Linked DNA regions of Homo sapiens. The protein of the gene in region 3 purifies or fractionates together with the protein of the main gene of each other region. This does not show direct contact. Each region holds a gene or a part of one and is shown on either strand. Other genes may lie near its edges.

Region 1 (7,022 bases), on a different chromosome or scaffold from region 3:
ACTATGTGGCCTGGCAGTTTCTTGGCCTTTCTATGCCTCAGTTTCCTCATCTGAAATATGAAAACAGTAATAAGCATGCCCACCTCACAGAGCTTTTGTGATATAATTACATGACTTCATGCATATAAAAGCACTTAGAACAATGCCTGGCACAGAAAGTATTACTCCTCACTCTGAATTCATAAATTGGACAGAACATCAATGGAAGCTGGAGTCCTTAAGTTCAAGAAAATATGTTTAAGAATTCTTAAATAAAAGAAGTAAACTAACCCATGAAAAATACCAGAAGTAGACATTTTGCAAAGACAGGGTTAAAAAAAAAAAAAAGTCAAGTTACTGAGTAAAACAGTAATGCCGATGTACTTATATGCTGTTAGGTCCAGAACAAACAGAATTTACAGACATTAATCAATCATGTTAAAACTTGAACCTCAACAGGAGTAAAGGAATAGCTTCATGACAAAATGATGAGGATGATGACCAAAATGACCGTAGCTAATAACATCTAACTCCAATTAAATGCTTACCATACTCCAGACTACCGAACGCTTTACATGCATTAAAACTAGCACAACCCTATGAGGCACATATTACTATTACAAAATAGAGGTACGGAGAGATCAGGAAACTCACAGAAGGTCACACAGCTAGTACCAAAGCCAGGATTCAAACCAACTGTCTGACTGCAAAGCCTATACTCTTAAGCTGCAGTACAATCCATACTTAACAACAGATCTTACGGTTACTTTAAAATTCTAGAGAAACTCCTACTAAAATATTTCTGAAGGTACTCTATTAACTGAATTAACTAGATGTATTAAAAATCCCTTGCCTCTATTCATTCAGAAGCACACACTGACAACTAAGAAGGCACTAAGCTTAGAGCTGGGGATAAAATGAAAAGATTCAATCTCTGCCCTTGGTAAGAAGCATCCTCTACAAATTAGCAGAAATCATAAGCTAAATTTAATGAAGCCAGACAAACCTGAGTAGCTTTGTGTTTCAGCTGGTTGCAGAAAGCCCTCACATCAAATTCTGATGACTCTTCTGTGGAGGTGGAAAAATTGCAGATACAAAACCTTAGGCATACTATTTTCAAATCTACAACAAATTCTTAAGTGCATGACATTTCTTGCCAAATTACCACAAAATAAAGGAATAAAGCAAGCAAATAACTAGGAAGCAACTACAGAAACAAATAAACAACTTAAAGTACTCAAGCTTAGAAAGCACAGGTATTACCATACCTCTCTAATCAATATGAGTCAAAATTAAGATGTGAGATGTTGAATTTCTTTCTATGCAATGCATGACTATTACTTTCAAAAGGTTTCTTTTTATTTGTTTTTTGTTTTACTAGAGTATGTGCTGTATCAAAGCAAATTACCTTTGAAGACTCTCTTATTCTTTACTGGCTGTCCAAGATCCACATTATTCTGTACATTGATCTTCATTTGTTTAGCTTTTTTTGAAATTCCAAGCAAGGTTTCTTCACTGGCTCTTGGTGACTGCTCATTTATTAAAAACAGTTTATTTAGCAATTTATTTATTCCTTTAGCTGCAAAAGCTATAGGCATTTTTTTCTTAAAGGCTTCAAAATATGGCTGTCCTAAAAATTCAGTGATATCAGAAGGAAAGGTAAAATCTTTGAAGTAAGGCATTGGTTGAATCCTAGCGACCTCTTGAAGCAATCCAAACAAAGGCTCATATAACAAAATCAACCTTTTTAAGACACCTTTATAGAGAACCCTAGAGAAAGAAATAGGAGCTCATTAATTAGCCAGTAATTACAATTTGCAGATTACATAATAAACTGCAAGATTGAAAGCTGAAAATAAATGGCTATCAAGGTCCTCCAGTACAGATAAAAAACACTATAGTGCACACTTGCGAACAGCCAGATTAGTCCAACCCAACAGAAAAATCCAAGTATAAAATGTTACTCAAAAAACTGTAAGACAGTCTACCAGGAAAGATATATATATATTCAAAAAGTACTACATGGAGAAATGTACAAAAGGATGCATATCAAAGTTTTAAGTGTGGTAGATGGTGAGATTTTAGGCAAATTTCAGGTTCTTCACATTTCTCTTTTTAAATTTCTTAAAACAGGCATGTATTATAATCAGCAAAAATTAAAGCTATTTTCATTACAGAAGAGAGTATCAAAGGTTTAGCATTTTAAAATAATATGATTAGTAATCAAACATTGTTACCTCTGATTAAGAATAAGTAGAATAAAAAATAAAACAATAGGAAATACTATTTGAGATATCCAGGTTAAGATATCAAAGCAAGGTTTTCAATCTCTAAACACAGAAACTTTTTTTCTTTTCTCCATCCAATGTTTTCTTACATTCATATTAGAACTAATAATCTTAATTGTTTGAAATGGCCCAAAACAGGCCTTCTTACAGATACGGGCAAATTCTAATTATCCATCAGATCAGTTTCACAATATGTACTGAGAGACATGAAAGAGATGTCTCTTTAGTTTCCAAGTATTACCAGCATACATCAACTAAATATGCTCAAAAAAGCAGTGGTGTTTGAGATGGAAGAAAATAGTCTAGCACATAAGAAGGTCAAAAATTGCATTTATCATTGCCATTAAAAATTAGAAACCGAGTGACAGAAAGAATCAAGTGATACAGCCAGCCCAGGATTAGCATCATTTTAAACGGCCTGTTGCAATATGACTACTACCAACAATTTTTTATTACTGCAATTCCCAGTCACAGGCATTAATTTTTTTAATGTTCAGTAAAAGCCCACTGATGTTTCACTACAACCTACCATGACCCAGATTTCAGTGTGACACCAGTCACTCCCGATTTTTTTAGTTGTTCAGTGATTGGGCTGATCTTGTGGATTGAGATACAAAGCCTACTCCTTTGATACAGCCATCAGCACTCGGCTTCCCAATCTACCCTCAAAAAACTCTGATCAAACCAAGAAAGAGAATACCTGCACCTTCCATAACCCCATAAGAAAATAAGTTTGAAAACTACTAATAAGAAACCTAGGCTGAAAGGAGATGAGAAAGAAATGAAGGATGTCAGAGGTATGTACATACCATAACCTGCTCACCAGCCCAACCATCACAAGGTTTAAAATAATGAACTCTTGCAAACCTAGATGTTTCACAGTCAAACTGGAAAATCAATTTAAGGTAGAAAACAAAATCAAAGTAATGTGGGTTTTGTAAGTTACAATCATGAATGAAGAAATATATTGGAAGTAAAGAGAATTTTCTTAAAGGTATTAAAGCCTTAAAACACATTCTATTTAAGAATTTAAAACTTTAAAATATGGTTATAAACACTCTGCTAGAGTTCCCATTATTAAATTTAGTTCTTAAAGTTTAGTTTCTAAGATTAAGAATTTCTAGCTATCAATGCTCTTAGGATAATACGTGCTGAACAGTGACAGGCAGTCTCTGGCAATGGCTGCATCAGGCAATTCCTGAGAAAAGGAGGCCAAGAAGCAAAAGTTTAAGAATTCCTGTAGGTTGTAACTCCTATGGAGTGTTAGCTTTCAAACAAAAATACTGTTAAAAATATCCAAACAATTCCAAATCAAAAGAAGGTATATTTCAAGATATTCAAGGATACAGAAAAGTTTTGCAGCAGCAGTCCAACAAGCGGAGCAACAACTTGCAGGCTCCCAAAACCTTCATCAACACCAACTCCACCACTGGCTGACTGGGGACAACACATACTTTGGTAGTTAAGGGCTGATTTTCACTTGAAAAAAATAGAAAAAGTACATTACTTTCACTTAAAAAAAAAGGGTTTTTTTTTTGTTTTTTTTTTTTTTACATTTACCAGTTTATTATAAAGGATATGACAAAGGATTGAAACAAAGAGATGCATAGGGCAAGGTATGGCAGAAGAAGCACAGAGCTTCCATGTCCTCCCTGGGCGACCCTTCACATTTTCAGCTATGTGCAAGCTCCCATTACTTTCATTTTTAAATATAAAGCATTTCTATAGCAGTTTTCAAGTGAAGACTTGCTTTAAGCTCAACTTGAGGTAGTTAAGCACAATAACAGCCCACTGATGTTTTAATATAATCTACCATGACCCAGATTTCAATGTCACACCAGTCACTCCCATAGATCAATGTCAGAAGATTACCACAAACACCAGGTACCCCACATTAAAACAAAATTTATACAGCTGAGGTATAATTGGTTATATTCCAACAGCAAGCATAGAGAAATCCAAAGGGAGATCACAAGACATTGAGTTCCCAGCCCACCACATCACAAAGCAACTGGACCACTTACTTACTTGGAAGAAAACAACTCAAACAGGTCTTGAATTGAGCCCTCCAAATTCATGTTTTTCAAACGCTTTAAACATTGCTCAACCTGAAAGAAGAAGAGCAGTTCAAATTCATGTGTATGTAATGCAGACAGGGTCACTGATTATGACCAGGAAAGCAAAGACTTCTAGATTTTCAAAGTATGGAAATATGCTAAATATCACAGAATACCTTATTTTTTTTCAGGGTAGAGAAATCCAAAGCGCAAGCAATTGCTTCTAGTTACAAATTTGGAATTTATCCAGCCAAACACATTTTTAAAATCAGGTGACTCCTAAGAAATTAGTATATGCCACAATGAGCTTGATGTCATAAAAGGGACCAAAACGAGTATAGGTTATTCTCAAGATTATAATTTTGCTAAGACAAGATTTTTTTTTTTTTTTTCAGATGGAGTCTCACTCTGTCGCCCAGGCTGCAGTGCAGTGGCGTGATCTCGGCTCACTGCAAGCTCCACCTCCTGGGTTCACACCATTCTCCTGCCTCAGCCTTCCAAGCAGCTGGGACTACAGGCACCCGCCACCACGCCAGGCTAATTTTTTGTATTTTTAGTAGAGACGGGGTTTCACCGTGTTTGCCAGGATGGTCTCGATCTGGACCTTGTGATCCGCCCACCTCGGCCTCCCAAAGTGCTGGGATTACAGGCATGAGCCACCGCGCCTGGCCGACAACATGATTTTTAATAGTGAAACTATTAAAACAAGATAGAAAATTATTAACTACTAAATTTCAACAGTCTATAAAGTACCACAGAGATGAGGAAAACGATTGGCTTTAATCACTGAACAAATATATTCTTTGATTAGATGAAGCTTGTTCTTATGTTCCTCTGCATCTTCTCTCTTTCTCCCTTCTCTCTCTTGGGTTTTTTTTCTCTTTTGAACCGCAGTTCACTTACTATGTTTTCCAAGTGCTTTACCATCTGGGTTTGTCAATACCTCCCTCAAAGGATGGTGTCCAGACTTGAAAACTGAAAAAGATAGGAGCTGACCCTAAAGAATTTAAGGATTGTTCCCTCCATTATTCTTGAAAACCGCTGTTAAAACAGAATCCATAACCTTGGTTCAATTTCTAGAAGTATATTTGCAGCTCTGGCAAGATACTCTTGTTGCCAGTATCAATGCCCATCCAAATTTTTGTATCTGTCTAGATGCAGTCCCATGCTGCCCTTTGTGTGTTATTCCTGAGGACTACAGAATTCCTACAGCATTTTGTACCATGCATGGCTCTTACTTTTTTTAAAAAAAATTAAAAATCCTATTGAGTGCTTACTGAACACTGTTCTAAGAACTGGATTATGGTGGTAAACAAAAGGGACAAAATACATTGCCCTTGTGGAGCTTACATTATAGCTGGGAGAGAAAGGCAGTCAATCAATGGCAGGTGGTGTTAAGTGCTATGAAGACAAATAAGGCAGAGAGGGAGTGCTGAGAAGATTGCAATTTTAAATAGGGTCTGTTTTTATTTTAGCATTTAATTAAATATTTTACATGTCTTCCTATTTTTACTACTAGATTTTTAGCAACTAGAGATAGGGAAGTTTCTAATACCACTTTATCTGCCAGCATGCCCTACATGTACTCCACAGAACAGGAATCAAAACTACTTTCTGTGTTCCATTTAGGGGAATGTTTAGAGACAGGCCAATTCTAGTACTTACATGAAAGTTCTCTGAAAACTGTGAAATATTAAGCAGTTGTAAGGCAGTAGTAGAAGTGGTAATAGCAGCTGCAGCAGTAACATAAGCATAAAACATGTTTCCTACTTCAGGGATCACATGGAATATAAAATATATACACAAATAACTTTACCATGACACAGACTATATTAAATGCTATAAGTACAAAGAGGAGGCCCAAATAGCCAAGAATTTAAAAAAAAAAAAAAAAAAGCAACTTCAGTAATAATCAGAAAAATACAACTTAAAATGAGATTACTATAACACAGATTATCACTGCCAGAAAGGCTTAAAATGGGACTTAGAGGATAGGAAGGCCTTTAACAGGCAGACATGGTGAGGCTGGGCATTCTAAACATACAGGACCAGGTAAGCAGACTCAGAAGCAGGAACAAACATAGTGAGCATGCAGGTGTGTTGAGTCCAGGTTGGCTGGAATATAATCTATCTGAACGCAAGAGAGAAGCCCGAACTAAGAAGACTGAAGAGGCCAGATCACAGATCTCGTAAGCCAAACTAAGAAGTTTGGTCTTTACTCAGGACACAATGGAGAACGACTAAAAATCAAAGTTGTGTTTTCAGATGATTAACCTGGTTTTAATATTTAGAATATGCCAGAACTTAGGAAAAGCTGAAGGAGGAAACATCAGTTATGATAGTAAGACAACTAAAAGTTGACAAGGTCTAAGAAAGGAAAATGGCAGCCAGAACTGAAGAGGGGACCAGATGCAGAGGAAGTTTTGTCTTATGGACTGCCTGGATGGGAGAGCTACGTAAGAGAGAGAGACTAGAGAATGCCAAATTTTGATGACGGGGTGATTATTCACAACCCAGAAGCTAGAAGGAGAAATATATTCACTTTGAGGGTTAGCAAGCTTGCTTTTGGATCAAAAAGACTCCGAAAAAGATAAAAGCCACCCTAGAATGGAAAATTTAGGGAAAGACCATGGTCCCAGATCTTTCTTTGATGAAATCTTCACCCTGTTTGCTTTAAGTACTAGGGGTAGAAAACTAA
Region 2 (7,816 bases), on a different chromosome or scaffold from region 3:
AGGCCAAACGACAAATCTGGGCCTGGCCAGATGCAGTCCCTTGGCCCCAGGGAGGGCAAATCCGCCCACCTCCATCACACCTGGGGACATTCTCATCTGAGAATAGGTTCACGGATCCCACCAGCTTCTTGAGCTTGGAGGGCACCTTCTGCTGGGCCAGGAGGAAGAGCTCTAGCTGTTCAGGGGAGCTGAGTATTATATTCAAGTCGGCTTTGAGGACCTCCGGCAGGATCTCCTGCAATGTGGCCTTCGAGACCTAAGGATGGAGGGAGAAGAAATCGTGACTTCCTCTGCGGGGTGAGCCTGGTGGATCCTGTTCTACCTGCTCCTGACACGGGGCCACCTGGTGAGGTATCAGAGTCATCAGAGGCCAGTTGCTAACAAAACTCAAATTCCCAGGCAGCGGGGTTTTTGACAAGCATCCCACTGACGCTAACTGGCCCCTGGAGGTACCTGCCCCCCACCCCTTATTTTTTTTTTTTAAGACAGAGTCTCACTTTGCCACCCAGGCTGAGTATAGTGGTGTGATCTTGGCTCACTGCAACCTCCGCCTCCCAGGTTGAAGCAATTCTCCTGCCTCAGGTGGGATTAAAGGTGTGCGCCATCACACCCAGCTAATTTTTGTATTTTTAGTAGAGATGGGGTTTCACCATGTTGGCCAGGCTGGTCTTGAACTCCTGACCTCAAGTGATCTGCCCACCTCGGCCTCCCAAAGTTCTGGGATTACAGGCGTGAGCCACCATGCCCGGTCAAAGCTACCCTTTTAATTATTCCTTTTTTTGGTATTTCAGAGTACTAGCTCATTTCATACACGAGGAGCCCTAGGTGGAGAGCTGGGATTCGAATTCAGGTCCTTCTGGCTCTGAGGTCAAGACTGCACAGTAAGCCCTGGCCTGGAGACCTGCTACCCCTGCCTTTCTCTTCGGTGACAAAAGGGCCTAGGGTGCTACCTTCCCAAGTAGGGCAGTGGAGGCCCACAAGGGGCCAGCCTTGACCAGGATAACAATGGCAAACGTTTTATATACTTGCCACGTGCCAGGCACAGTTCCAGAGCTGCACTGCCCAATACGGTAGCCACAGCCACACAGGGCTGCTGAGCGCCTGAAAGGTGGCTAATCTGAACAGGGGTGTGCCTAAGTGTAACATACACACTGGATTTTGGAGACACCTGACAAAAAGAGTGTAAGATATCTCAACACTTTTTTATACCAATGCACACTGAAATAATATTTTAGATATACCAGATAAAGTCAAATGTCACTAAATGTTACTAAATGACACCTGTTTCTTTTTACCTTTTCAACAAAGTCACTGAAACGCTTCAAATTATACATCTTTGTATTTCTATGGAACAGTGCTGTTCCAGATTCTCATCCGAGCCCCCTTGATGTCTCTGTAACAAAGTGTTGCCTGGGCCCGCACAGCTGGGGAGCTCATACCTCGGAGAGGATGTCCACCAGGGCCTTCCGGGGCTGCTCCTGCAAGTGGTTTTGGTACTGGGCCAGGGCCTGCAGCAGCTTCACCGACTTCATCAGTGCCTCCTGGTCCTGGTCCCCACAGAGGGACAGAGGGTATGAGCAGGGCACACGACTGTCCCCCACCCATCCCAAGCCAGCCTACATTCCCCCAGTCCCTCCAAAGCTCTTACCTTCACCAGCCGACCTGACTGAAAGAGGGCGAGCACTCCAAACAGGTTTGCAAAGAGAGCAGGTCTCAGCATTGCCTAGAAAAGGATTCCAGGCACAGGCATGAGGGGCCCTGGAACTCCCCATTCCCCAAGCCTCCCACCCCTGGGGCTGCTGACCTCCCTGGCCCCACTCTCACCTTCTTCACCTGATGCAGGTCATATTTTTCTTGTATCTGCTGCAGGATGCTGCACAAGGGGAGGTCTTCAAAAGACTGTAACAGCTGCCAGGAGTTGTGTGGCAGGAGGAAGAGGGTTCAGGAGAGTGGCCCAACTACGTCTTCACAAACCTTAACCTCCCTTCCCCCTTCAACTTCTCCCAAGAAGCCTCAGGTCCCTAGTCCCACCTTCTATGTACCTTCTATGGCCCCTAGATTACTAGTCTGAAATGCTCAGCCACTGGGTCTTCTCTCCGCACGTGGTCTGAGCTCCCCTCAGGCTGATCCTGCAGGCCTGGGTCTTTATTGCTCTGCCCCTTGTCAAGGCGCCTCAGAGAGTGGTCTACTCCAATCAGCTGAATGCCTCTGCAGGCCTAAGGGAGCCCACCCAGCGCTCACTGCTCCCAGAAAGTGTACCTAAGAGGCCGGGCAACCCAAGCACCAAATAGAAAACCTGGCCAGGCCTTGCTCACACCTTCTCCACTTTCATGAAGAGGCCTCCCTCAGGTTGGCCTCCAGTCTGCTCTGCCACTCCCGACCTCTCTCTCGGGCTGCCCCTCCGCCACAGCTGAGACACCACACCCGCCCTCCTCATACCCCACCATTTTGACCTGGATGGCTGGGACCCTGCCAGGAGCACCACCTCACCTGTGCCAGGGCCAAACTGTAGCAGGGCCGGGCTGTTTCTCGCCCGACCCCGAGTCCCGTGATTAGACGCTTCAGGGCATATTTCATCTCGGACCCCTGCGGAACCAAGCACACCCTCGTGTTCAATGGTGACAACAAGGTGCACGCCCCCGCGCACCCTGGCATCCAGGTTCGCGACCACGTGCCCCCAGTCTCAACTCCCTGGGCCCGCCGCCGCTTCCTTGCCGGGATATGCGCAGCCTCTGCCCCAGACCCCGCCACTCCACCTTCGGCCTGCCACGCAGATACTCCAGCAGCTTCTCCGTGGCCGCAAGTCGCGTCTCCTGCTCAGGCTTCGCAATGTCCCAGAAGAAGTCCAAGAACTCGCGACTGTGCTTCAATAGGCCATAGCGGTCGGCAGGCCGGGCGCCACTCTGCGTCGCTTCTCCAGGCGACATCGGCTGGGCGGGATCCCGGCTCTCCATCTCCGCCACACTCACCGAAACACGAAACACGTGTGCTCCGGCCCCAGCCGCTTCCAGGTCAGGGCACGGCGCATGCGCACCGGTTTGTGTCGGCTCGGAGGCGGAAGAACCCGGAGGGGCGGGGGAACCAAGAGAGACCGGCCCAGAGTTAAAAGAGCGGCATTTCCGCCGTAGCTCTGAGCGGAAGTCCCTCGCCTAGCGGCGTCCCATCTTTCCCAGCCTTCTGCTCACACCCGCTCCGCCCTGGCGGCTGTGGCATCTGCCCCTTTGGAGCCCCAGGGGGGCATTTCTAAGGGCCCATCTCGGAAACAAACCTAGGTGTAGCACTTCGATCCGACTCGTCCCAGAGCGGCCCCTGCGCTCCGAACATTGAGCCATTCAACAATTACTGGGCTCCTGCTGGCGTGCCGTGCTAGGCGGTTGGAACAAAGCCTCTGCTCTCGTGGAGGAACACGGAGCCAAATGCATTTAAAAAGATCATAATTATGAAGAGAATTAGGAATGCAAGGGTCAGGAGGAGGCTTTTAAGTGCTGGAACGTGAATACATCACCCGTTAAAAACACGGCTAATTACTATTCAATAGGGTCTCCAATAATGATTTGAGGGGTTGGTCAGGGAAGGCCTCTGTGAGGAAGTGGCATTTGGGATGAGAGCTGAGTGACAAGAAGGGCCCCCCTCCCCCGTACTCCTGCAAGGATCTAAGGGGACGAAATCCCAAGCCTTGCAACTACAGAGACCCAGGGCTGGAGGGGCTGAGGCTGGCGAGAAGCAAGGCTGCATGGGGCCCCGGGCTGGGATTTCATTCTGAGGGTGATGGGAAGTCACTGGTGAGTTTAATGCAGGGGCAAGCCTGGATCCGATTTACATTTTAACAAGATGATGCTGGCTGCTGTGTGGGGGATGGACTGTAGGTCTGCGCAGGTGGAAGCACGGGAAGACCATTTAGAGATAGTGGTGGACTGGACCCAGGGAAAATGAGAACAGGTCAGATTTGGGCTGATGTGGAGCAGGTGGGGTGGGTGATGGAGTTAGATGTCGGGGGAGAGGAAATGAGGGGGATGCCAGGTTTGAGACTGAAATAACTGGGTACATTGTGGTGCCATTACGGAGAAGAATTTTCTTGGGAGTGGGAGGTAAAGGTGGTGGGATCAAACGGTCTATTAAATCAGAGAAGCCTTTTACAATGGCAGGGGAGGGGAACTGCTACTGGTCACCCTCGCTTCTTGGTTTGAGAAGCTGTTTATAGAGGGCTGTGGTCCAGAGAGGACCTAACCCTTGGGGGAGGTCAGGGCTAACCTTCGCCTTGAATTTCCACACGCTCAACTCCAACCCCTTTGTACCCAAGCCCCTGGGGCGCCTTCTCACCCTCTCAGCCGCTTCCCTGCTTTGCTGTCTGTTCTAGAAAGTGAAATGAAAACATTCACCTTGCACATCTGGTGCCCCAGGAGGCAGGAGGTGAGCGGAGCAGGGGGAAGCTGAAAGATACCAACCCAGGCTCTCCCCTCTCTGGTTGTTGGTCACCTGTGCTGCCCATCAGGGAAGCCCTGACTCCAGTTGCTTCAAAAGCTGTTGGAAAATTAACCAAGAAGCAGGAATGGTGCTTGGTTTCCGGGAGACTTGATCTTTATTTTGTACCCAGTCTGGTTGAGGCAGATAGGTAAGGGGTGTCCTGAAGGGAAGGACAGAGATGCCAACAGTACCCTGGGCTCTGCCTGTCCTGCTTCGTGGGGCCCAGGGCCTAGGCAGAGGCTCTGCACTCTTTCCACTGTCCTCCTGAAAGCTGGATCTGAACTCAGTGCTAGCCCCAGGCCCTACTGCTTTTTCGTTATTACCCTGATTTTCTTAGCTGATAAAATAGCTAGAGATTCCATCCGGTGTGGGTGATCTGAAGAATGATTGTTAGCTCTGGATGCCAGAACTCAAGTCTAGGTAACTTAAAAGGCCAGAGGTTGGGGCCTGAGCCAGCAGTGAGCACATAATAAATCCTTTTTTTTTTTTTTTTTTTTAGACAGGGTTTCCCTCTTGTTGCCCAGGTGGGGTTGCAATGGTGCGATCTTGGTTCACTGCAACCTCCACCTCTCGGGTTCAAGTGATTCTCCTGCCTCAGCCTCCCAAGTAGCTGGGATTACAGGTGCCCGCCACCATGCCCAGCTAATTTTTTGTATTTTTAGTAGAGACGGGGTTTCGCCATGTTGCCCAAGCTGGTCTCGAACTCCTAGCCTCAGGTGATCCACCTGCCTTGGCCTCCCAAAGTGCTGGGATTACAGGCATGAGCCACCGCACCCAGCTATTTTTTTATTATTATTATTATTATTTTAAAGACAGGTTCTCACTCTGTTGTCCAGGCTGGAGTGCAGTGGTGTGATCCTAGCTCTCTGCAGCCTTGAACTCCTGAGCTCAAGCGAGCTTCCTGCCTCAGCCTCCCAAGCAGCTGGGACAACAGGCATGTGCCACCGCCCCTGGCAAATTTTTAAATTTTTAGTACAGATGAGATCTTGCTTTGTTGTCTAGGCTAGTTTCAAACTCCTGGCCTCGAGGTATCTTCCTGCCTTGACCACCCAAAGTGCTGAGATTACAGGTGTGAGGCACCACACCCTGCGGGTGCACACTCCATTGCTGCTGTGTCTGCTCTGCTCCTGCCCCCATGCTTCAGATAACTCTGCCTTCTGCCAGACCCACCCCCATCCTGTTAGAACCCCTGGAAGGGGCAGCAGGCATGGGGGACACTGGAGACATGGGCGTGCTCTGTGTGGGCTGCCACCTGGAGCAGGGTCCCTTGGCCACAAGTGCTGGGATGCTCTGTTGGTTCTTGCTGACCCTGATGCTGGTGCTGGGCCTGGGTAGGGGGCCTTGCTGCCAGATGCCTGAGTAGGGTGTGAGTCATGGCCCTGGCCACATCAGGGGTCCCTGAAGCCACAAGCCCCAACACATCAGCCTCTGTGTCATCCAGGCTGCCACGGAGGATGAGGGGGCAGGCCCAGGCACTAGTGGTAGACTTGGCCACCAGGTTGCTGAGCAGAACCCCAGTGCTTGGGGACAGGTGTGCAGAGCCAAAGGAGCAGTTGAGCGAGGAGGTGAGAAGGAGCACAGAGCCGCTGCTGTCCACGGCGGCCAGGGCACTGCTCTCGGGGCTCACAGCAGTCTGCAGGAACGGTGGGCAGGGGTCAGGGATGGGCGCCCCGGAGCGCAGGGCTGCCTCCAACAGTGCCAGCAGTTCTGGGCCAGCTGAGGGACTGGGGGTGGTGAACAGGATGCCCTGGGGCACAGGTAGCTGCTCTGCTGGTTCCAAAGTGGGCCTGGGCACAGCCGAGGGCACCTCCACCCCCAGGTCTCCCGCCAGTAGACTCAGTAGAGCATCCCCAGCAAGGTCTGAGGTGGGAGCGAGGGCTGCGCTGCGAAGCACAGCTGCCAGTTGTGGGTTGGTGGCTCGGGCCCCAGCGCCCAGGGGTGTCCCATCAGCATGGCAAAGTAGTGGACAGAGGCCTTCTGTGCCCCGAGCCACCAGAGCCCTTGCCAGGGGTGTGTCCACCAGGAAGCCCTCCTGAGCCAGCGTGGTGGGGCCCACTAGCAGGCGTGGCCAGGGCAGGCGGCCGAAGCGTGCATGCAGCAGGTGCAGGGTGGGCAGAGCCGCGGGCAGCCCCAGGCCGGGGGCCAGGGTCTGTGCTGGGCCTGATGTCAGGGCCGTGGAATTGCCTGAGGAGCTATCGTGGAAGAGGCCCCAAAACATGGCACCTGCAGGAGACAGAGGGGTCCCTCAGCAGCCGCAGGTCAAGGGTCACTGACTTGTTTCAGTCAAGATCCCTTGACTGAGCCTGGGATCAGGAGTTACTGACCAGGCCTGAGGTCAAAGTTCCACAGACCCGGGCTCAAGGGTCATAGCCTGGGGTTGGACTGCTGCCCAAACCCTAAGTCCTGCTCACTTAGCAGTCTTGAGGTCAGTGCTACTGACTCCCTAAGTTCCAGGTCACTGATCAGGCTGTGGGTTGGGGTTGCAGTCTGGGGTCAGGGGTCACTGACCTAGCCCCGTGGCATGAGGATGCACCACTGCCAGGCACAATGCAGCTCCAACTCCAGCATCCACGACGTTGCCCCCGGCAACAAGCAGCTCTCGGCCTAGGTGGGAGCATGTGGCTGCAGCAAGGAAGGCACTGTCATGCAGCAAGGAGGGGGGCTAGGCTGGGCTGGTGACCCCTGACCCTCCCCTCCCCAAGCCGCCCCCAGCACTGACTGACCTGCAGGGCTGATGATGGCACCGTGGTGGTATACGCCAGGGCCGTGGGAGTGTCCGCCGGGTGGAGGGGCCACAGAGCCCAAGCTTCCTGTCGACCTGCCCTGATTCTGGAGCTGCCTCACAGCCAGGGAGCAGCCAACAGCCAGCAGCAGCAGGGCTGCCACTACACGGGCCCAGGTTCCGGGCAGCCCGCCAGCCTTGTTCCTGCAGAGGGGGGGTGTCCTGAGCCACGGCTGGGACAGAGGGATGCCCAAGGACCCCAAGAGACCCCAGGGAATATTTCCCAAAAGGTTTGATTTAGCAAGAGGAGCACAAGTCAGCCAAGGAGAAAGGGCTTCTTGGCAGCGGGTGCATCTTGGGCAGACATGGGGATGGGAAAGCATCTGGGGAAACTGAGCCTAGCTAGGGAGGGAGCCTCTGGAGGGGAGATTGGTGGGGCAGAGTCCACTCAGGTGGGAGGGAGGCCCAGTGGGGTGTGGCAGGCAGGAGAGAAGGGGCTGGGGAGCAGGCCCAGCCAGGCGTAGTCAGGCCCCAACCTGCCCAGCAGGTGCCTCCTGCACCAGGACTTGGGGGCTGGGGACCTTTGACAAAGCAGCAGATGGGACAGAGGCTGGCTTGGTACAAATGTCC
Region 3 (7,095 bases):
CTCGGGAGGGTGAGGCAGGGAATTACTTGAACTCGGAAATCAGAGGTTGCAGTGAGCCGAGATTACACCACTGCACTCCAGCCTGGGTGACAGAGCGAGACTGCCTCCAAAGAAAAAAAAAAACAGGAAAGGTATATTAAAAATAAGGTATAATAATCTTATGGGACCACCATTGTATATGCGATCCATCTGTTGACCCAGCAGTTGCAATGAGGCACATGACTGTGATTTTTTTAAAAAACAAGTATAAACCTCTCACTATTACCCTGGAAAACAAATTTGTGCAATGTTGTCCTCAGGTTTTGTGATCTTGGCAAATCAGTTTCTCATATTCAGAAAATTTAAGAAATGCATAAATATGCATACACACAATATAGACCACCTAACATATTTATTGAGCAACTTCTAAGTTGAGCAGAAGGCTAGTCTCTGGTAGACATGAAAGATTATCGATGCCTTTTACAAGGGCTTTGTAATTCAACTGAAGAAAATAAGGCAAGTTGAACAGTGTGACTGGAATTTACATGGTTACCAAATGAGTGGTATAGATGCCAAGTTCTTCAAAGATGTACAGACAGTGAGGTACACACAATACCCAGGTGTAAGAAATAGTATTTTATAAGCAGTCAGCAAAGGAAAAAAAGTCTCAAGCCACATGAATAGAAACTAAAAGGCTGAAATCAAGTAGGGTTAAGTAGTTTATTTTGAAAGTTTAAGTACCGTTCTTAAAGATAACTGGTGCTCATTTTCATCATTATCCACCTTAAAGTGATAATCTTTGTCGGCCTTTAGTTCACAACCTGTAAATGAAGAAAAAAGCAACTCTAACAAGGAGAAAAATAACACTGAAACTTAAGTGTGGGTAACCAAAAAGGTCAGGTCTAACTTTTGAACTAGTTTTTCACTATTTTAGCTACCAGAGGGCAAAGCAGAATGATCAATTCCTAGATTTCTTGAACAGAAACCTCTACAGACACCCATAAAAGACTATAATTCCATTCTCTCATCATACCATATTTCATCTCTAACTACGCTGATAGGTACTGTTATTCTGCATAAACAAGCTCAATGGTTTAGTAAATCTCAACCTGAAGCAATTATCTGAAACCAAATGTAATGTCCAATGTTAAGTTTCCCACTATTTAAAACAGCTGATTTACCTACCTAAATTCCCAAATGGCAATTTCGAAATGAGAACGGTTACAAACATGAATAGCTTACTATTACAAAAGAAAAATGACAAAAGTAAAAGAACCGAAGTTTGCTACAGGGATCAACACTCCACTCTTTAAAGCAACAGAAAGTGACATACGCCTCAAACTATATTCAGAAATTATGTTTAAGACAAGGAGGGTTCTTTCCGATAGTTATCAAAAAGTACTGATATAAATTTACCAGAATTCTCAGCTATCCAAAATAACTAGGAATTAAAGCCTTAATGTTTTGAATACATATGTCTACTCTCACTCCATGAATGGGCAAAATTCTTCAAAACACTGTCAGAATAAAAATTTTAAATGATTCCATTTAACTATCATCTAACCGTTACCAATACATATACATGCTTAAATGTGAACAGACGTTTAATTAACAAATCTCAGCACGGATAATGAACAAGATAAAATTCACGGTAGGATTTGCATTTACTTCAAAGTCTGAATAGTACAAAGATTAGGCTTCTGCAATTAATCCTACTGAGATCAAAAACCCAAGTGGGACTCTCCTTTTTGGGGCAGGACTACCGCAAGTCGAGGGGGGTGGTGCTCCCAAAATTCTGCGAATAGTCTTAGGTCTTGATCTGACTCAAACCGAACACTCTACGTGTTTCTTGTATTTAGAAAAGCAGTTTGGTCAATGCCGCACAAATGGCGGCATGCGAGGACGTCCCCCTAAAACGAAGCCTCATTAATATTCACGAAGCAGCAGCTACGGAGTCAAGCGTCTTGGTTTAGATTTAGTCTCTTATTGCCTTTACTAAGTACAACCTTCGTTAAGTGAGTTTATCTCTGGGCACCAGTATCCTCATCTGCAAAGTGGGGCTAGCTCCACCTACCGCAGTGAGACAGAAAAGGGGCTCAAAAAAATGAGAGCTGCCATCACAGTACATGCTGTAAGCACTGAACAAAGACCTCCAGAACCCTAGTGCTACCAGCCTCTTAACATTTCCCACTTCAACAGAGCCACAGCATCCCTGGCTCACGAGTGGCAACACGCCGGTGAGTCCCGGATGTAGCGCCCACACCCCCCTCCCTCCCCCAACCACGTGGCAACCACGTGCTCCCAGCGGTTGCGGCCTCCTCACGCCGCGCCGCGCCTCCCCACCCCCAGTAACTGGCCGAAGCACGCGAGGTAAGTCTACGTCCGGCAGCTCCAGGCTCTGAGGCCAGAATAACGCCAGGCTGTGCATCTACCCGCTCCAACAAGCAGGCCCATGCTTCCCGGTGAACCCAGCCTCCAGGACCACCAACCCGGGGCCTGGCATCAGAAGCCTATGAACCACCGCCGTTAGAAAATAAACCACGCCTGGAGCTCCGCCACGTATCCCCGGCAAAGGCCGAACTTCCAGGCGGCCGGTTCCACTTTACCTCAGGCCCCGGGCCTCGGACCGCTCACGCCCCAGACGCTTCAGGCCGCTCGTCTCCTCCCCCTTCACGCCACCGGCTCCCCCCGCGGCTCCAATCCCTCCAGGTCCAGGGCTCAGGCAGCTCTTCCCACCCGCTCAGGCCTCCCGTCGGTCTGGCGGTCTCCACCAGACCCGGTTGCAGCCGGATTCCCGCCCCTCACCCCCACCCTCACCGCCACCAGGCCCCGCTCGGCCTCGCTCCAGCTCCCCCCAGCAGTTACCGAAAAGATAGTTCTGGGGCCTCAGGGGGCTCATGTCCATGTCCATCGAATCTTCCATCGGGTGGCGGCACGCACTTAGGTAGGAGAGAAGGCGGACGGAGATAAAAGAACGCTGCTCCAGAGAACAACCGCGCAGGACGGAATCACACCAGGGAAAGGACGCAGGCTCCCCGCGCTTATATATAGACCCTGAAGATCTCGCGAGCGCTTCCCAAGTCCCGCCTCCGCGCGCGTGCTCCGAAGCCCTCCCACCCCCGTACCGTAGCCGTCCTGCGCAAGCGCTTTTCAACCCCACTCCTTTCTACCTCGCCCCCACCTCCTTCCAGGTACTCCGCGGGCTCCCACCGAGCACGCGCACTCGTACACTGGCCCCACCCCTCCGCTGCTGTCGCCTGTGCGCACGCGTGCTTTCCAGTCGTAACGCGCACTCCCCACCTCCAACCCTTCCACGTCCTCTCCCGCTCAAGCGCGCCGGCCTCCCGCCAAGAGTCTGCGCAGCCCACCCTGCAAAATGGCGTCGGCAGCCCTTAGCTGTGTAAGATATGGCGGGTTAGCCGGCTGCGAATGAGCCAGAGAGCACCTCGATTCACCTTTCCCCATCCCCTAGTGCCCTGCAAGCCTCCAAACAGGCGTAATCACTTCAGGAATTTTTTACTTGCCTGAAGGCTTCGGATCGCAGTTAATCGTTACCCCAAAGTTCAGGTGCCAGAGAGAGTGAATTGCGGCTTATTCTTTGTTAGGAAGGAAAGATGTAGTTACCGGCCAGACTTACGGAACTTTGTTTTTCAGCTCTGTCCTTCCTGAGAAAACATCTCCAAAGTCCTTATCTTTACGTAACTTGGGGGCCAAAAGGGGACTGAATCAGTCTCCAAATTAGCAAGGACATCGCCCTAAGAGAGCTCGGAGGGTGGGCCGACTCTGACTTCTTGCCGCTCTTAATCTTTAACATTCCTCCTGAAAGAAAGCGGGTGACTTGTAAGAACTACAGAAGCCTTAATTCGAATATTTGGGAGCGAGCATGGGAATTAACGTTTTAAGCTACACCTTGACAAACTCCGAGGCACCCCAGCACCCCGCGGGCATTGGGGCGTTCTGAAGACCCGTAATCTTTTTTTTTTAAGCCTCAACATATCAAACAAATTTAAGAAGTGAGGAATACAAATGATAGCCTCAGAAAGGAAGACACCCCCACCCCAAGGCATTATTTCTTACAGGAAAATTATAGAGACGATTTCAGTGTCTATCAAGAGAGGAATGAACAGTTAAATTATAACATGTCCATATTATGGGTTAGTTGTGGACACATACTAACGCATAATATGGACATGTTATAATTTAACTGTTCCTTTCTGAGAGCTCCTGTGTCACATAAAGCTTTGAGTCACTTAAATTTGTTATGCCTTTTTTTGTGTGTGTGTGGAGACAGAGTCTCGCTGTGTTGTCCAGGCTGGAGTGCAGTGGCGTGATCTCCGCTGGATGCAACCTCCGCCTCCCGGGCTCCCGAGTAGCGAGGACTACAGGTGCATGCCACCACGCCCGACTAATTTTTGTATTTTAGGAGGGATGGGGTTTCGCTGTGTTCTCCAGGCTGGGCTCAAACTCCTGACCTCGGGTGATCCGCCTGTCTCTGCCTTCCAAAGTGCTGGGATTTCAGGCGTGAGCCACCGCACCCAGCCAGCATTTTTTTTTTTTTTAAACGGGGTCTCGCTCTCTTGCCCAGGCTGCAGTGCAGTGGCAAGATCTCTGACTCACGAGTTCTGCCTCTTGAGTTCCAGCAATTCTCGTGCCTCAGCCTCCCAAGTAGCTGGGATTACAGGTGCCTGCCACCGCGTCCAGCTAATTGTTGTATATTTAGTAGAAACAGGGTTTCGCCATGTTGGCCTCCCAAAGTGCTGGGATTACAGGCGTGAGTCACCACACCCGGCCACTGTTTTATTTTTTATTTTAATTTTTTTTTTTTTTGAAACCGAAGTCCCGCTCTGTCATACAGGCTGGAGTGCAGTGTTATGATCTTGGCTCACTGTGACCTTTGCCTCCTGGGTTCAAGTGATTGTCCTGCCTCAGCCTCCCAAGTAGCTGGGATTACAGGCGCCCCCCACCACGCCTAGCTAATTTTTGTATTTTTAGTAGAGATGGGGTTTCACCATGTTGGCCAGGCTGGACTCGAACTCCTGACCTGAAGTGATCCACCCGCCTCAGCCTCTCAAAGTGCTGGACTTACATGCGTGAGCCATGGCGCCCGGCCTTATCTGAGACTTTAAAAAAAAACAATCCAGCAAAAGGGGAGGAGAAAGGAGAGTGGGAAGGTATATATGAAATAAGATTGACTACATGATGATAATTGTTAAAACTGGGTGATGGGTATATGGTTGTTCATCATAGGATTCCTTCTATTTTTGTTCTTGTTTGAAAATTTCCATGATAAAATGTGTTAAAAAATGAAGATTAAAATAAAACTTGTATTTAAAAAATGGTATATCAGTTTATCCTGTGGAATACTGTGCAACTTCTAAAAAGAATACAGTGGTCCCCTATATATTATATCCTGGAAAGATAGCTATGCCACATGAAGTAAAAAAGCAAAGTTGGAGAACAATATATATATAATACGACCCTGCTTACGTAAACAGTGAATGCCAGGTGCAATGGCTCATGCCTGTAATCCCAGCACTTTGGGAGGCTGAAGCAGGAGGGGTTGGAGTTGAAGACCAGCCTGGGCAACATAGTGAGACCCTGTTTCTACAAACAAACAGAAAAAATTAGCCGGGTGTGGTAGCACATGCCTGTAGTTCCACCTACTCAGGAGGCTGAGGTAGGTGGGAAGATCTTAAGCCTGGAAAGTCAAGGCTGCTGTGAGTCATGTTCACACCACTACTCTCTAGCCTGGGTGACAGAGTGAGAGCCTGTCTCTAAAAAAACCAACCAACCAACCAAAAAAAAGAAAAAAGAAAAGAAGCATTTATATGTACTGTATATATATTTGTAAGTGCCTGCTCTACTTACTGTGCAAATCCATTTCTTAGAATACTCTACAAAACTACTTTCAGACATTAATAATTATATAGGTACAAAGATATTTACTAAAGCTGTCTCTCCCTACTTGGAAAGCTGAGGCAGGAAAATCACTTGAACCCAGGAAATGGAGGTTGCAGTGAGCTGAGATTGAGCCAGTGCACTCCAGCCTGGGTGACAGAGTGAGACTCCATCTCAAAATAGATATATTTATTTCTAATAGTATGAATTACCCAGTTCAAATACCCCTGTCTCTTACAGTTGATTTGCTTGAATAAGGATCAAAACAAGGTCTACACATTACCTTGAGTCATGTTGTCATTTAACATGTTCCTGGCCGGGTGTGGTGACTCACGCCTGTAATCCCAGCACTTTGGGAAGCCGAGGAGGGCGCATCACCTGAGGTCGGGAGTTCAACACCAACCTGACCAACATGGAGAAATCCCGTCTCTACTAAAAATACAAAATTAGCCAGGCGTGGTGGCATGCCTGTAATCTCAGTCTGTAATCTTCTGTAAAGGAGAATGTTTCTTGATCAATTATTTGATTACCCTAAAAAATCGTTTTCGGCCAGGTGCAGTGGATCACACCTGTAATCCCAGCATTTTGGGAGGCCAAGGCAGGTGGATCACCTGAGGTCAGGAGTTTGAAAACAGTCTGACCAACATGATGAAACCCTGTTTCTACTAAATTAAAAAAAAAAAATAGCTGAGTGTGGTGGCATATGTCTGTAATTCCAGCTACTTGGGAGGCTGAGGCAGGAGAATTGCTTGAACCTGGGAGGCGGAGGTTGCATTGAGCCAAGATTGCACCATTGCCCTCCAGCCTGGGCAACAAAAGTGAAAACTCCGTCTCAAAAAATAATAATAATAATTTTCTTTCTAAGATGGGGTCTCACTCTGTCACCCAGCCTGGAGTGCAGTGGGGTGATCTCGGCTCACTTCCGCCTCCCAGGTTCAAGTGATCCTCCCATCTCAGCCTACTAAGTAGCTGGGACTGCAGGCAAAGGCCACTATGCCCAGCTAATTTTTTGTATTTTTGGTAGAGACGATTTCACCATGTTGCTCAGGCTGGTCTTGAACTCCTGAGCTCAAGCAACCCACCCACCTCAGCCTCCCCAAGTGCTGGGATTACAGGTGTGAGCCACCATGCCTGGCCAAAAATAATTTGTACCACCCTGGGCAACAGGGAGACCCCATCTCTACAAAAAATTTTAAAATTCGTTGAGTGTGGTGGCTC

The links. The genes of interacting proteins can lie anywhere in the genome.
Region 1: the proteins of NPM1 (region 3) and RMP64 purify together in Homo sapiens (affinity purification with mass spectrometry; 6 studies listed by BioGRID and IntAct, with this or other methods). This does not show direct contact.
Region 2: the proteins of NPM1 (region 3) and MYBBP1A purify together in Homo sapiens (affinity purification with mass spectrometry; 5 studies listed by BioGRID and IntAct, with this or other methods). This does not show direct contact.

What each region holds. Positions count from the first base shown.
Region 1 is NC_000003.12:113,009,658-113,016,679, forward strand, and holds part of RMP64 (nucleolus and neural progenitor protein), read right to left. Parts: intron 4,376-7,022; coding exon 4,296-4,375; exon of another isoform or gene 4,292-4,295; intron 3,747-4,291; coding exon 3,615-3,746; intron 3,155-3,614; coding exon 3,077-3,154; intron 1,750-3,076; coding exon 1,388-1,749; intron 1,048-1,387; coding exon 986-1,047; intron 1-985. UniProt on the Homo sapiens protein: May play a role in cortex development as part of the Notch signaling pathway. Downstream of Notch may repress the expression of proneural genes and inhibit neuronal differentiation thereby maintaining neural progenitors.
Region 2 is NC_000017.11:4,552,371-4,560,186, forward strand, and holds the start of MYBBP1A (myb-binding protein 1A), read right to left. Parts: upstream 3,015-7,816; 5' UTR 2,955-3,014; coding exon 2,757-2,954; intron 2,587-2,756; coding exon 2,491-2,586; intron 1,909-2,490; coding exon 1,825-1,908; intron 1,724-1,824; coding exon 1,649-1,723; intron 1,548-1,648; coding exon 1,440-1,547; intron 257-1,439; coding exon 81-256; exon of another isoform or gene 70-80; intron 1-69. Other genes in the region: GGT6 (glutathione hydrolase 6), read right to left, coding at 5,645-6,687, 6,973-7,086, 7,188-7,390. UniProt on the Homo sapiens protein: May activate or repress transcription via interactions with sequence specific DNA-binding proteins. Repression may be mediated at least in part by histone deacetylase activity (HDAC activity).
Region 3 is NC_000005.10:171,383,756-171,390,850, reverse strand, and holds the start of NPM1 (nucleophosmin), read right to left. Parts: upstream 3,003-7,095; 5' UTR 2,903-3,002; coding exon 2,845-2,902; intron 801-2,844; coding exon 721-800; intron 1-720. UniProt on the Homo sapiens protein: Involved in diverse cellular processes such as ribosome biogenesis, centrosome duplication, protein chaperoning, histone assembly, cell proliferation, and regulation of tumor suppressors p53/TP53 and ARF.